2 separate regions of the Homo sapiens genome follow, and region 2 is linked to region 1. The links come from fine-mapping of genetic effects on gene expression. Tissue or cell type: unexposed skin. Region 1 holds a variant in brackets; the other region holds the start of a gene. All regions are shown on one strand. Distances are between the middles of the regions.

Region 1 (2,760 bases):
GTGGTTGTTTCAACATCCGGAGAGGCCAATGAAGGAAGAAGAAGAGCTCTAGAAGTGCCTGGAGGGGTCTCCACGCTCCCGCTTGGGCCACTCCTCGTCCACCCACCTGCGCAGAACCTTCTCCACGTCGGCCCTGTGGTAGAGCCTGCAGAGCTCCATCAGCTGGCCCACCGTCCTCTGACTGTTCCGGAGCAAGAACTCCAAGGTGGGGCTCTGTGGCCTCTGCTCCAGGAAGCACAATTCGTCATAGGACATCCCCCATTTGCTTGCAAAATTCCTCCAGTTTTTCACCGTTGGGTGACACGGATCCAGCTTTATCCTGATCACGTCTAGTAAGTCCTGATCATTGAGCAAGTCACTTATGGTGGGGGCCCGGAGCAAGCAGGAGGAACAAGTACAGTTTTCTTTGCAGGAGTTGTCCTTGCTGATCTCTGCAGGGAGAAACAATTTAGTCCACAGGTCAACAAGAGGCCTAACATATGCATTCATTTCTTACATCCTTTATTTTCCTGCTGAATTGTCAAAAGCATCATATGGAAGACTATTTCAGAATGCTCGTTTCTTTCTTTTTTTTTTTTTTTTTGAGATGGAGTCTCGCTCTTTCGCCCAGGCTGGAGTGCAGTGGCACTATCTCGGCTCACTGCAAGCTCCGCCTCCCAGGGGTTCACGCCATTCTCCTGCCTCAGCCTCCTGAGTAGCTGGGACTATAGGCACCCGCCACTGCACCCGGCTAATTTTTTGTGTTTTTAGTAAAGACGGGGTTTCACCGTGTTAGCCAGGATGGTCTCGATCTCCTGACCTTGTGATCCACCCGCCTCGGCCTCCCAAAGTGCTGCGATTATAGGCATGAGCCACCGTGCCTGGCCTCAGAATGCTCATTTCTAATAATGTGTTACTGTTCTTTTTTTTTTTTTTTTTTGATACAGGGTGTCACTCTGTTGCCCAGGCTGGAGTGCAGTGGCATGATCTCGGCTCACTGCAACCTCCGCCCTCCAGGCTCAAGCGATCCTCCCACCTCAGCTTCCCGAGTACCTGGGACTACAGGCACGTACCACCAAACCTGGCTAATCTTTTCTTTCTTTCTTTTTTTTTTTTTTGGTAGAGGTGGGGTTTCACCATGTTTCCCAGGCTGGTCTTGAACTCCTAGACTCAAGTGATCTGCCCACCTTGACCTCCCAAAGTGCTGGGATTACAAGCATGAGCCACCGCACCTGGCTGTGTTATTCTTTATAGCCAAAGATGAATTGCTTTGCTAGAAGGAGTAAGAATTTTTAAAGCCAGTTTCCCTTTCTTTCCAAGACTGTCTATGTCTTACAGTGTGCATTTGTGACACTGCTGGCCAGAATAAGGGCTCCAGCAAACAGAACTCTCTCCGGGGTAAAAGGGGCTGCTGTGTCTGTGAGTAACCAGCCGACACTTGCATGCACCTCAGCCCTTGCCCTTTCCAAGTGACCAGTCAGCCCTGACAGTTTAACACCAAACACAGCCTGTCAGCCTGTAAAAAATGCACAGTTCTTTGAAAGGTCTTTTTTTAAAAACAACAACACAGACATGAAAACTGGAATATCCACTCCATATGCATATTTGAAAACAAGTGAGAGTTGATAGTGCCAGGAATCTTAACTTTTTAAATTTATGGCCCCCTTAT[G/C]AGCCCTCTGCCTTTACCTGTGTTTTCTTCATCCACAGGCTCCCTTTGAAGTGGCGCCAACACCCTGGGGTGTGTGCAGTGGGAGGGAAAGAGGCAGAAAACTCAGCAGGAGGCTTTTCAGCTGAGCTTCAGCATGAAGAGCATGCGCCTACCCCAGAGGAAGGGCCATCTTTCTACTGAAACTTAAAGACTCAACTGTAGCCTCATTTGATTAGCAGGAGGTATATTTGTAGGAGGATGAAGTTTGTAGGTGAGAGGCGTTGACAAGTCATTTGCAATAAAGTATTAAGTGGTGTCTAAACAACGTGGCAAATTAAGGAGCTTAAATTCTACAACAACACTGAGTCTCATGAACCCTCTGAATTCAGATTTTAACAGCCAAAGGTCACTTTAGAGACCACTGGCTTGGAAAATTCTGGGGAAGGTTATAGTAGCCTTTACTATATATATAACATTGAGTCATGGCCTTCCCAGTTTCGGAAGGTAAAGAATTTGGACCGACGGAGTAACTCTGGTGATCATAAGGGAGCAAACCAGCAATATTGAGGCAAGTGGAAATTAAAAGGTAATAAAACAAGAGCCTTGAAAATAGGCTCATACTCTTTGACCTACTAATGTGACTTCTGGGAATCCACCCTAAGGAGATAATCCAAAATATGAATTTACATAAACATTGTTATCACGGTGTTATTTACATTATTAAGTTTCAAAAACAACCAAAATGTCTACAGTTAGAGGACTAGTGAAATAAATGATTGTGCTACTTGATGGAATATTATTTAAGTAACTATGAAGACAATATGGCAACCTAGAAAATGTTTGTGATGTTATGTGAAAGATGGAAGATAGAAAGAATGTATGAATTCTACGATTAGAACTACATGAAAATCAATGAGTGGATAAAGAAAATGTGATATATATATATATATATATATATATATATATATATATATGGCATACTTAAAAGGCACACTGAGATTATATTAGGGATTTTGTTTTGTTTTTTGAGACAGTCCCACTCTGTTACCCTGGCTGGAGTGCGGTGGCACAGTCATAGCTCATCATAACCTGGAACTCCTGGGCTCAAGCAATTCTCCTGCCTCAGCCTCCCA
Region 2 (2,615 bases), 87 kb after region 1:
CTCCGCCTTCCCCTCCCTTCTTCTTCTCCTCCTTCGCTTCTTCCACGAGCTCACTTCCTGCTTTGGCAATTAGCAAAGCCCCTTCGCTGCGCGTCCCTCGGTACCTCCCTCCAGAGGCGCGGGGCGGGAGCCGGGGTGCCGCGACCCGGGGCTGGGACGCAAGGCGGGGCCCCGAGTGTCCCGGGCGTCCCCAGCGCCCAGAGCGCGCGTCCTGCCCGGTACCCACGTCCCCCTGGGCGGGTCCTAGCGGGGGGCTGACACGACTGCCGCCCGGGACAGACTGCGAGCGAAGGACTGGCCTTAAGAAACGGCTGCAGTCGCGGGTCGCTTTCCTGGCTCCCTACTCACGCCCTCAGCTGAGACACCAGAACTCCCCTTACACAGGCCTGGGCTGAGATGCCCGCCGGCGATCTGATATTTAGACAAATTTCCTGATCTTTAAGCAGGCTCTGCCGCTGCATGATGGCACACGCTGGTACTTTCTATTTTGATTTTTCTTTGGCATTAGTTACTACATGACCTCCAGGGTGAGTGCTGCAGAAAAGGAGTGAACAGAAGTCGCCCAATACACACTCACAGCTTCTCTAGAAAAAACAGCTTCGGGTTCTCTCAGAAAAGATGGCTTCAAATATTTAAAATATTACGCTTAAGTGGGGTTTTATACCCATTACTTAAGTGAGAACACGTTGGAATTGGTTATGAAGAATATATTTAAGATTGCTACATTTTAACTAAAGCTATCATCCATCATAAGCCTATTATAGGAAGGCGACAGGCATTTTAAATTAAATAGGAATCTTTGAAGAGCTCTAAATAATCTTTCTCTGCCTTCACACATAAGAACAGAAAGATAAAAGTCGGGTCGAAAAAGATAATAATAGTATTTAGTGTATAATATATCCAAGAATTATCGTAAATAAGCAACCTCTGGCTAAAAACTCAGCTCTGAGAAATCCAGGAAGACAGCAAATGCCTACATACCCTCTTGGTGACCAGGAGCTTTAGTGCCTCTCCCCATCTGTTTAGTCGTCCTGAGGCCCATGGCGATGTTGAGTTTGGCTTCTTAATTCTCTGGAGTTTGCCATGGAAGAAGCAACAGATTGCGAGAAGATGCTCGCTGGTTGTCTGGCCAGAGTCAAACCTTCTAGATGAAAGCTCTCTGGGGAATTTGTAGGTGGGAGGATAAACTTCCTCTTGGTCTGCCTTCGGATAGGAAGGGAAATTTTTTTTAAGGGTATTTTATCTTAGAATCAATTTGGAGGTTTGGTTTGTGGTTCTTTCTGTACTTCTCATGGAGATGGAATTATTCTGACGTTGGCCGTCAGGAAACACTAGTTGAGTGAGCTTGTTAGCAGCCCAACCTCAAGCATTGCTATAAAGCTGGTTTGCTTTTTGAAACTCTGAAATGTAATTCATGTTTTTATCATTCCCATTCTGCATTATATCAAATAGAAGATGGTGGTATATTTTAAGGGTTTTTTTTTTTAAGGAAGATTGACTAGTTACGTAGTTATTACTCCCTTTCATTTTCATTTCCTCGTGCCTCCTTTCCTATGAATTGCAACGATCCCCATCATTACCTTTATTTTTCCCATGTGCTTTGCGAACTATAAAGTATGACGCAAATGGGTGCTATTGTTGTTTTGCACTTTACAAAAAAAGTAATTTAAAAATGATTCGCATTCACCAGAGTTCCCATACAATCAATTTGCTGTCACAATGTCCTTCAACTTTTATTTCTTTTGCTGTCCAAGAGTGTTTTAAACCACTATTGAAAATAGACATTTTTGGGCTGGGTGCAGTGGCTCACACCTGTAACCCCAGCACTTTGGGAGCCCAAGGCAGGTGGATTATTTGAGGTCAGGAGTTCGAGGCCAGCCTGGCCAATGTGATGAAACCCCACCGCTACTAAAAATACAAAAAACTTAGCTGGATTGGTGGCACATGCCTGTACTCCCAGCCACTCAGGAAGCTGAGGCAAAAGAATCGCTTGAACCTGGGAGGTGGAGGTTGCAGTAAGCTGAGATTGCACCACGGCACTCCAGCCTGGGCGACAGAGTGAGACTCTGTCTCAAAAAAAAAAAAAAAAAAAAAAGAAAGAAAGAAAGAAAAGAAAATGGACATTTTTAACATTTCCCGATAGTACCCAAACACTCAATCTCAGAGTCATGTGAAAAATTTCATATTTCCATAACTTCACTGCTCTTTGAGTGACCTCCAATTTTCCTTTTCCAATAAATGGAGATAGTGCATTTGGTAATCATGGAGTCAAATATGCTGGATTTCGCTGATGGACCTGTCACTCTAAGGTTGTGTTACATTAAGTAAGAAACCAAAACTGAGTCTGCAAGTGTCTGCAGGATTGTGAGAATTCACTGAAATAATGTTTATGTGAAAATACTGGCTGGGCATGGTGGCTCACACATGCAATTTCAGCACTTTCGGAGGCCAAGGTGGCAGGATTGCTTGAGGCAAGGAGTTCAAGACCAGCCTATGCAACATTTTGAGACCCAGTCTCTACAAAATAATTTAAATATTAGCTGGATCCCAGCACTTTGGGAGGCCAAGGTGGGTGGATCGCTTGAAGTCAGAAGTTCGAGATCAGACTGCCCAAC

Evidence for each region. PIP is the estimated chance that this variant, and not a neighbour inherited with it, causes the effect.
Region 2: EDARADD starts here. The variant in region 1 is fine-mapped to the expression of EDARADD in unexposed skin (GTEx, PIP above 0.99).

Annotation. Positions count from the first base shown.
Region 1 is chr1:236,479,938-236,482,697 of GRCh38, reverse strand. EDARADD (EDAR associated via death domain) reads right to left here. Exons shown (of 6, transcript NM_145861.4): 6 at 1-431. The coding sequence ends at 49. Among named protein-coding and RNA genes, the nearest start is that of LGALS8, 43 kb to the left of the region's middle. The variant G/C (reference allele first, on the strand shown) is at 1,649.
Region 2 is chr1:236,392,872-236,395,486 of GRCh38, reverse strand. EDARADD (EDAR associated via death domain) reads right to left here and starts at 1,201. Exons shown (of 6, transcript NM_145861.4): 1 at 982-1,201. The coding sequence starts at 1,042. RefSeq lists a silencer at 1-329 and an enhancer at 530-579.